Linked DNA regions of Homo sapiens: region 1 is linked to region 2. The links come from fine-mapping of genetic effects on gene expression. A gene starts in region 2. The other region holds a variant in brackets. All regions are shown on one strand. Distances are between the middles of the regions.

Region 1 (5,384 bases), 23 kb after region 2:
AGCCCTGGTTTATTGTAAAATGATATTCAAAACCAAGATCCGGGTGCTTGGTGTGCTTATTGCTACTGAGATGTTTATCTTATTAGTGGACAGATCTAGGATTTCTGTGTATATACTAACCCATGCATATACCTATATCTATTTCTAAATCTATATGTACACCTACACTTATGTAAAGAAACCATGAGTTTCATCCAATACCACAGAGTTCATTCTAGTCTTCCTCCCTTCTCTAATTGTAGTTTATTTCTTTGACAGTAAGAAATCTGACTCTCTTTATCTGCAACATGTTTGATTATTTGTTCAACCCTAATCTACACATACAGTTGTTTTGGAATTGCGAACCCATACTTCTGTTACTATTTGACTTTTTTTTTTTTTGAGTTACTGATTGTCTTTTTTTTTTTTTGAGATGGAGTCCCCCTCTGTTGCTCTGCTGGAGTGCAGTGGCGTAATCTTGGCTCACTGCAACCTCTACCTCCCAGGTTCAAGAGATTCTCCTGCTTTAGCCTCCCAAGTAGCTGGGACTTACAGGCACCTGCCACCGTGCCTGGCTAATTTTTGTATTTTTAATAGAGACGGGGTTTCACCACATTGGTCAGGCTGTTCTCGCACTCCTGACCTCAGGTGATCCTCACACCTCAGCCTCTCAAAGTGCTGGGATTACAGGTGTGAGCCACTGTGCCTGGCCTCTGATTGACTTTTAATTTGTAATTATGGAGAACTGTTAGGGAAAGCAACATACTAGGAGATGGATTTTGATAGTGATAACTTTTATCAGTTTAATTAACTTAGGTATCATTCCTATCAACTTTTCCTTCTATAGTTTACTTTGCCTTATGTAATGTACTAAAGATATAAGACTGGCATTATAGCATATCATCAACTAATTTGCCTGAGTATGATCATAAGAAAATATTAAACATCTTTTCTGTTGCAAAGATCTAAAAACCACAGATTGTTGGAGTAACTTTGAGGTGACAGATATTCAATGCTTCTTAAAAATATATATTTTTTCTGAACACAAAAGAGGTGTATACTCAGAAGAAAAAGTCACACTTTACAGAAATAAATGAAACATACAGAAATTCCTCATAACCCTTTATGACAACCACTGCGCACCCACATATACCAGATAACTGTTCAATGCTTTTTTAAACTTGAACATTTTATCATATTTTTTGAGGTTTACTTTTGTAAATTTGCCAGAATGATAAACGGCCAAATCCCACTGTACATCTAGGAAACTAATACAGATGTTAGGAGAAATTGTGGGATTTTGATAGTATTAAGGTATTTTTCTGGGCAGGGTTTTTTTCTAGGCAATGCATGACTGCACCCAAACCGTAGCTGATATCTTTATGAGTTTCTCAAGAGAAATAGTGGTATGTGCATAATGCCCAGTGGCAAGTGAAAAACAAGGAATTAAGAGATACTTCTTCCTGGCATCTCTTTTTTTTTTTCTTTTTCTTTTATTTATTTATTTATTTTTATTTATTTTTTTTATTGATCATTCTTGGGTGTTTCTCGCAGAGGGGGATTTGGCAGGGTCACAGGACAACAGTGGAGGGAAGGTCAGCAGACAAACAAGTGAACAAAGGTTTCTGGTTTTCCTAGGCAGAGGACCCTGGGGCCTTCCGCAATGTTTGTATCCCTGGGCACTTGAGATTAGGGAGTGGTGATGACTCTTAACGAGCATGCTGCCTTCAGGCATCTGTTTAACAAAGCACATCTTGCACCGCCCTTAATCCATTTAACCCTGAGTGGACACAGCACATGTTTCAGAGAGCACCGGGTTGGGGGTAAGGTCATAGATCTTACACCATACCCCAACAGCATCCCAAGGCAGAAGAATTTTTCTTAGTACAGAACAAAATGGAGTCTCCTATGTCTACTTCTTTCTACACAGACACAGCAACAATCTGATTTCTCTATCTTTTCCCCACATTTCCCCCTTTTGTATTCGACAAAACCGCATCATCATCATGGCCCGTTCTCAGTGAGCTGTTGGATACACCTCCCAGACGGGGTGGCGGCCGGGCAGAGGGGCTCCTCACTTCCCAGAAGGGGCGGCCGGGCAGAGGCGCCCCTCACCTCCCGGACGGGGTGGCGGCTGAGCGGAGACGCCCCCCACCTCCCGGACGGGGAGGCTGGCCGGGCGGGGGCTGCCCCCCACCTCCCGGACGGGGCGGCTGTCGGGCGGAGATGCTCCTCACTTCCCAGATGGGGCGGCTGCTGGGCGGAGGGGCTCCTCACTTCTCAGAC[A/G]GGGCAGCTGCCGGGCGGAGGGGCTCCTTACTTCTCAGACGGGGCAGCTGGGCAGAGACGCTCCTCACCTCCCAGACGGGGTTGCGGCCGGGCAGTGGTGCTCCTCACATCCCAGACGGGGCGGCGGGGCAGAGGTGCTCCCCACATCTCAGACGATGGGCGGCCGGGCAGAGATGCTCCTCACTTCGTAGATGGGATGGCGGCCGGGAAGAGGCGCTCCTCACTTCCCAGACTGGGCAGCCGGGCAGAGGGGCTCCTCACATCCCAGACGATGGGCGGCCAGGCAGAGATGCTCCTCACTTCCCAGACGGGGTGGTGGCCGGGCAGAGGCTGCAATCTCGGCACTTTGGGAGGCCAAGGCAGGCGGCTGGGAGGTGGAGGTTGTAGCGAGCCGAGATCACGCCACTGCACTCCAGCCTGGGCAACATTGAGCACTGAGTGAACGAGACTCCATCTGCAGTCCTGGCACCTCGGGAGGCCGAGGCTGGCAGATCATTCGTGGTTAGGAGCTGGAGACCAGCCCGGCCAACACAGCGAAACCCCGTCTCCACCAAAAAAATACGAAAACCAGTCAGGCGTGGCGGCACGCGCCTGCAATCGCAGGCATTCGGCAGGCTGAGGCAGGAGCATCAGGCAGGGAGGTTGCAGTGAGCAGAGATGGCGGCAGTACAGTCCAGCTTCGGCTCGGCATCAGAGGGAGACCGTGGATAGAGAGGGAGACAGAGACTGTGGGGAGAGGGAGAGGGAGAGGGAGACCGTGGGGAGAAGGAGAGGGAGAGGGAGAGGGCAAAGTAGAGGAATTTTCCCCTGGCATCTCTTTCAGCCACCAAATGACCACAACTTGGTGCCTTATATGAAGTATAATTTGGAACCAATCTCATCCTGAAGTCATATCTCATTAATGAGTAAACACATCTGAGATGTTTCATTCTGCAAATTTTTTTTTTTTTTTTTTTGAGATGGAGTCTTGCTCTGTTGCTCAGGTTGGAGTGTAGTGGTGCAATCTCGGCTCACTGCAACCACCGCAACTCCACCTTCTGAGTTCAAGTGATTCTCCTGCCTCAGCCTCCCAAGTAGCTGGAATTACAAGCGTGAGCCACCACGCCTGGCTAATTTTTGTATTTTTAATAGAGATGAGGTTTTACCATGTTGGCCAGGCTGGTCTTGAACACCTGACCTCAAGTGGTCCACACGCCTCGGCCTCCCAAAGTACTGGGATTACAGGTGTGAAGCACTGCACCTGGCCTGCAAATGCTTATATCTTCTTTCACCAAGTTAGGTACTGGGGGTATTAAAATGAATGAAGGTTGGTTGTTACCATAAGGATCTTTAAGGGAAGAAACACAGGTAAGCCAATAATTGTAATATAACATGAATAGTGTGATTTAGGAGTGCAGAGGTGGGAGGGACCCCTGCTTGGAACTTTACAGGGGAGGTGGTATTTAAACTACTCTTTAGTACCTGGCTTCTCTCTGTGCCATCACTCGGCAATGAATTTTTTCAGTCCTGTGCTAATTGAAGTAGTTTTCTAAACTCCATTTTGTCATCTGTTCAATTCCCTTTTAATGAAGTTCTTTATATTTTTAACATGTCTGTCTGCTCATTTTATTCCTTTCCTGGAGAACTTCAATGCTTATATTTTAGGTAAAGAAGGGAGTTCAGAATCTTTTGTGTAACATCCAAGTCCTGCAGGTCAGTCCTCAGCCTGTCCACTCATCTCTTCCTCCTCCATACACCCCTTTCTCCAGCTACACTGAACTGCTCCCCCAAAACAGGTGCTTTTTAATGTTTGGCTCCATGCCTTTGTTCTGTTATTCTGTCTCTGTGAAAAGCTCCTCCCTCATCTGTGCTTTCTGCAATCATACTCTATTTCAAGGTCCAGCTCAAGTTCCATGTCTTGCATGAAACCATTTCTTATCCTTCTAGCTATCTCCCAAGTTTGAATAGTTTCTTCTTCTAACTCCTCACTTTGTCTTTTTTCTCTACTATATTGTTAGCTTCCTGTGGGTCAGCCTCTTCGTATTTCTTACGGTATCTTTAACCACATATCCTTAATTACTTTTTAGCCATTTTATACTGAGGAATTTTATGAATATCTTGGCTTTGATCTTTTGCTTCTGGATCCTCTTTAGACCCTCACGTTTGTTTATTTATCTCTAAATGTTTTAATTCTAGTGCTAGGTCTTCTGGGTTCTAGGACAGCTGGATAGAACTATGTGTTAAGACTTTTCATTGAACATTAACTGCTTATGTGGACTCAGTCAAATGTGTTGATTAAAGGCATGCATTTTGGAATCAGACAGAACCAAGCTCTAGCCCCAGCTCTGTTTTCTCTTGAAAAAGTTACTTAACCTCTCTAAGCCTTAGTTTCATCATCTTTAAGTTAGGCTAAAAATACTACCTCCTGCTGACAGGTTTTGTGAGAATTAAAGTATTTAGCATAGTGCCTAAAACATAAAAGTGTGCAATAAATGTTAAATTCTTTGTCTTTACCTGTCCCTTCTTTTCCTCTCCCTTCTCCTTTTCATTCCCTCTTTTATTTTTACTCCCTAATCCCACTTCCTTTTTCTTCTCCATGAAATATCATTACTGTTTATGAAATTAGTCTGTTTTGCTAATATCCAGCTTCTTTTAGGATTTTTTTTTGGATTCAGAAGTTATCGGCAAATTAATAATTTTTCATGTGTTAATGCGGCAGGTCACCATAAATAAATTGCCTCGTGATGGGAATTTTGTCATTCTGGTACTTTCAGTTGTACTCAATTCTTAGCTGTATATAGGTGTTGCATTGATGAAAACCACTTTTTTAGGGGAAAGGCATCAAAATCAGTGGCTTATTTGTAGCACTATTGTATTCTCTTATATAGTAATGTAATACTAACCTAAATCTTAATGTATTTTCTCTAATTTATAGCAAATAATTTTCTTTTTTTTTGAGACAGAGTTTTGCTCTTGTTGCCCAGGCTGGAGTGCAATGGCGTGATCTCGGCTCACCACAATCTCTGCCTCCCAGGTTCAAGCAATTCTCCTGCCTCAGCCTCCTGAGTAGCTGGGATTACAGGCATGCACCACCATGCCCAGCTAATTTTGTATTTTTAGTAGAGATGGGGTTTCTCCAT
Region 2 (5,384 bases):
TCTCCTTTCTCAACTCTGTGTCTTGCCTGGATGGAAGCTTTCTTTGATTTTGGTCAGCCTCTGAGACAATGGACTTGTAGGGGATTTTCTTCATAAGGAGCGGAGATGGAGCAGGAGACCACTTAGGTCTTTGGCAATATTCTATGCAAGAGATGACGGGGGCTTGAACCAGGGCAGAAGTAGTAGGTGAGATAAATGTTTGGATTTTGAATACTTTGAAGGGTAAAGCCAATAATCTGATATGGGGTGTTAAAAGGAAGCCCCAAGTAAGTAGGCTCACATCAACCTAAAAGGAAGGAGCAGAGGCAAAATTAATATAGAGAGTTTATTTGGGCCAACGTTGAGGACTGTAGCCTAGGTCGTACTTCCAGGTTGCTGTGGAGAGTGCTCTGGAGAACAAAATGGGCTGGAGTTTTTAAAGAAAAGAGAACGAATCAGCAGAGGGGGGCATTACAAAAGCTATGTCTCAGGAAGTGTCATTTATTTACAGAAATAACATTGGTTAGTGATTGGCTATACATATTGTTGAACTATAGGGTATACGGCGTTTTATGGCTACTCGGTGTCAGTCTAGGGCCTGCATAGCAAGTGCCTTCAAGAGGTAATTATTTAGCTCAAGGGAGAGTGAGACATGACTGCTCGCATTCCTTAGATAAAAAGTTTTTTTTTTTTTCCTTATCATCTGTCTTCTCACACCACACAATTGGGAGTCTCAAGGGACCTTAGAGGACTTGAGCACATTTCACCTCTTGAAATTAAAGATGAGCAGCTTCCTTTCGTTTAAAGATAAGTCACATGAGAATTTAATTTTGGCAGTTAAAGAATTGGTTCCCCAACCTAAATCTACAGACAAGATGAATTTTCTGATTCATCTCCTTTCCTACAGTTTCTGGATTTTGTTTATCCTCCGATTCCAAATGGCATAATTGCTAGTTCTTTCTCCCACTCTACGTCCATCACCAGGTGGGTGTTTCAGCCTTTTTCTATCCCTCACATAGGACGCTCCAAAGGAAAAGAGAGGTGCTGTTTCCGGGGGGAAAGAACGTAGGATAGTTGAAAACAGCACGGTATTTTATTCACAAACTTGATTTTAAGATGACTGAAAAATCTAATGTGAAATAAACATTTTAAGAAATACAGTATTTGCTCTATTACTGTGTTGTCTACTTTGCCTCACATTTAATCTATTACAACTATAGAGTTAAGACAACTGTGATTCCTAAGCTTAATTCACATGATTGATCAAAACCAAGCTTAATTCTGTTTTAATGTTGTGTATTGCTGGAAGTAACACAAAGCATTAATAAACAAAAGGAATTCGATACCCATTTTGGGTAAATAGTATTTCTGCCTTCATTCTAACATAGATTTCATTTTGGCTTTTAAAAAACAGCTGCTGTGCTATATACCGCCGTATCCAGTAGTTGTTAAATACCTGGGCAACGTTACCTTTCTAGGGCTTGTTTCCTCATACATAAAACCTATTGGTACCCCGGGCCAGCTCTCCTATTGCTTCCTGATCGGGGACGATCTAAAAATCTAATTTAACAAATATCTGGTGTCCAGTGTAAAATAGCATGCTTGATGTCTTATTAGCACAAGACATAGAAGAGCAGGAAATTCACATAAGGAAACGGACCAGCTGTGAGTAGTTCCCAGTGGATATAACCTCTCCTTTGTTGGCCTTTAAATAATAAGTGCATCAGCTGCCGCACCTGCGATGCATGCACGCGTGGAAATCCTGCAAATTCTTAAACTGCCATCCCAAGGCGGAAAATGCAGAATTCCATTTTATTTTAACTTTTAAAGGAGTTAAATTCGGGCTTGGTACTGGGGTCCTCTCGGGGAGGTTTCCCTTACCTCTCCCAATGACGCTACTTAACCTCACCAGCACTCCAACACTGCCCACACTTGCCTACCCAGTTCTAGGTGAACGGTCCCACTGGGCACGGACCAATGGGCTCGTTCCTTCCCAGCGGCAGGGTGGGACCTCCAGCCTGGGCTTCGGAGACCCGCCCCCCGTACGTGGCGTGCGGGCATTGCGCTACGCGGCGCGGGCCGGTTTCTACAGCGCGTGGCGCCCCCCGGCGGCAGCCGGGCTTCAATGCCACGGCCTGACCGGAGTGTCCGCCATGGAGTCGCAGAAAGAGGCACGAACACTCCAGGAGCCCGTTGCGCGGCCTTCTGGGGCCTCAAGCTCTCAGACGCCGAACGACAAGGAGCGGCGGGAGGGCGGCGCAGTGCCGGCGGCGGCTGCCCTGGGCGCAGAGGCGGACGACGACAGTGCGGACGGGCTGTGGGAGCTGCCGGTGGAGCCGGCCGAGCGGAGGCCTGAGTGCACCCGCTGCAGGTGACCGCGGGGCTGGGGGCGGGGACTGCAGCCGGCAGCGGCCTTCGGAGGAGGGTGCGGCGCCCCCTGCCGGGGAGTCGGCGGCTCGGGCAGCTCTGCGATTAGGGCGGCGGAGTTGGCGGGTGCACGTTGGAAATCTCGGAAATGCCAGGCACAGCTACCTAGTAAGAAGCCCTTTTTCCAGGTTCATGATTATCTAACCTTACTTCCTGCAATATGCTGAGCGTATCATGGGATGAGCAGACATCAGTTCTGTTTCCAAGAAACTTAAGCGTCCAATAGGGGAAGTAAGGGGTGATGACAGTAATACTTGTAAAATAGTTACACAGTCATATTTAAGTGGCATAGTTATATCACAGTTAAAAAGCATAAAGTGGATTGGAGGAGAGAGACAGTCTCCTTTACCTATCCTACCAGAACTCTAAATATAGGGCCTTTTCAGGTGTTCATTCTAGGTTCTCTTCAAACCCTACATACGTCCCACTGGTAATTTATAAAATCAGTTTTCATGGTAAATTATCATCTATATCCCAGTGTGTCTAGCTCAGACCTTTCTTCGGAACACCAGACCTGTGCATTAATTTATCAGGTGTTTATTGAGTGCTTTGGTAATCACTGACAATGCAGTGGAGTTCATGTTTTTGTAGAGTATTCTCTTACTGGATACGGATAATAAACCAGCAAACAAGCAATCAAATATGTAATTACAAACTGGGAAAAAAGCAGTGAAGGAAAGGAATGGGTTGCTACTGTAGAAAATAGCTCAATGGTGTCATGAACTATCTCTGAGATTTGAAAGATGAGAAGAATCCAGCCAGGGGAAAAGCATTCCAAGAAGGGGAACAGAAGGACTGAATATGGTTGAAGATCTTTACTGCTTGAATACTTGGAGTATCACACTTTGGACATTTTGACCTTTTCCTAGGGCTGGATTGTAAGACTTCAGAGGAAAGGATCTTGAATGTAGAATGTTTTTATATTTTCTAAATGTACTATGTATAGTTGACGCTCAGTAAACCTCTGAGGAGGATGGAAAATTTGTGATTAGAAGGGACTGTGAATTTGAACATAGGGGTTTGTGAATACAATTAATTTAAACAAGTCGTCTGAGGGGGTTGGGGAAGCATTTAAAAATGTTTGGAGGGGTCTCAATAGGATACTGGAGGAAAAGTGTTTCAAATATAAATCAAAGGCTAAATTACTGTGCTAGTTTTATTTAGTTTTTAGTCTGTTCAGAATTGTTAATTATAAATATATAGGTAAAAATCTGTTTAGCAGAGATTTATTTTATGATGCTTTTTTAAAAAAATGGCTTGCTGAATTTAATCTTTTTTTCAGTTACGTTTAGTTAATACCTTAGGATTACAATTTTCCCCAACATTTCTGCACTTTGCTTATTTCTGGTGAAATTTGCTACCTGTGAAAAGCTCTCCTCCCTCTTGCTATGCATTTTATTTGCTTTAATTAGGTAGACTATAATTCTACACTTTGCTTATTTCTTGTGAAATTTGCTACCTGTGAAAAGCTCTCCTCCCTCTTGCTATGCATTTTATTTGCTTTAACTAGGTAGAATATAATTCTAGAATTATGGAGAATATTTAGGTGTTGTCAATAAAATATAAATGAATTGATGGCTTTTTATATTTTATTTCATTATGCTATTAGAGTTCTACTAGTACCCTGGGTGAACTTCTTTACATTTATGGTTAAAATAGTTTTAAAAATGCATTCTTAGATTTGATTGATCATTGAGTCACAGTTATTTGGCTATTTACTTAAACTGTATTCATTTCTCTGAACACATTACTACAAATGTCACAGCCTAGGGGAGTTCCAGAAATTAGCTTTGTTCAGGAAGTGCAAACTCAGTTTAACTTTTCAGCAGAATCTTGCTCATTATAAATATAACATATCTTAAATATGAATGGAATATTCTTTAAAAGATCCCAAACTTGTAATTTATTATTGCAAGATATAGATTCTATAAATGTATTCTGTCCTTTATGTATGTCTTGTTTACAAAACCTGCCTGTATTCCATTTACCTCTTAGAATACCTTTCCTATCCCCCATTCCCAAACGTATATAATTTTTTTTTTCAGATAAAGACAAAACCTTGGCTGATCTCCCCAGAGTATGTATCATTAGCATTATTTGAGATAACATAAGAAGGCTGAGGGTCATGGGACATGGTAGGTGCACAAAAGATTTGTTGAACTACTTGGTAAAATTCAGTTGTTCAACAAATATTTTTGGAGACCCTTCTTCCAGACGGTGTGATAGGCTATGAAATACAAAGATGAAAAAGAGATGACTTCAGTTCTCCTGAATATCAGGATCTAGTGGAAAGTGGCATATCTATTTAAATGGGGAGCCCTCAGATTAAAAATCCTATGATGTAGGGCAGTTTTTTCAAATTATAGGTAATGAACCGCATCAAATTTTTGAAGCTCTGAAGAAAACAGCAAAAAGTGTTTTCTGAACTTTTCAAAGTAAAAGTATTTGTAAAATAACTTTGTTCAAGTTAAAATCATCTTGCTAATTTAAACATTCTTATTTAAATTATATGACATCAGAGTGGAAAGATTTAAACACTTTTTATATGTGTTTGATATCCTTTGGCAGTCTTCGAAATTAGGCCGTCGTGGAGTAAGAGTCAGAAGGCAAAAGGATGCATGTTCACCAAGTAGTGCTTCTGAGATTTTACTAGAGTCTTTAATTTTGTTAGGAAATAAAGTGTAATATACGTGTGTATATGTATGTATATATGTGTGTGTATATATATATATATATATATATATATAAAAATGCACATAAGCATGTGGTCTTTTTCTTGTTGAATTCTATACTATCAGCTTCTTTCTTAGATGGGTATATGTAAGGTGTTATAGGAACATATAAAAAGGTGCTCCTAACCCTAAGTTTGTATGGTGGAGATGAGGAAAAGATCTGGGAAATCTTGGAAGTGACATGTAAGCTGAGACTGAAGGACATAACGAAATATTTAATCTGGATTCTAATATTTAGGATTAATT

What was found. PIP is the estimated chance that this variant, and not a neighbour inherited with it, causes the effect. A credible set is the group of variants that fine-mapping cannot tell apart.
Region 1: its variant is the best candidate, but not a certain one, in a credible set for the expression of DTWD2 in fibroblasts (GTEx, PIP 0.64).

The regions. Positions count from the first base shown.
Region 1 is chr5:118,962,055-118,967,438 of GRCh38, reverse strand. All of the region lies in intron 1 of DTWD2 (DTW motif tRNA-uridine aminocarboxypropyltransferase 2), which reads left to right. Among named protein-coding and RNA genes, the nearest start is that of MIR1244-2, 9.8 kb to the left of the region's middle. The variant A/G (reference allele first, on the strand shown) is at 2,266.
Region 2 is chr5:118,985,260-118,990,643 of GRCh38, reverse strand. DTWD2 (DTW motif tRNA-uridine aminocarboxypropyltransferase 2) reads left to right here and starts at 2,097. Exons shown (of 6, transcript NM_173666.4): 1 at 2,097-2,350. The coding sequence starts at 2,133. RefSeq lists a silencer at 2,184-2,513.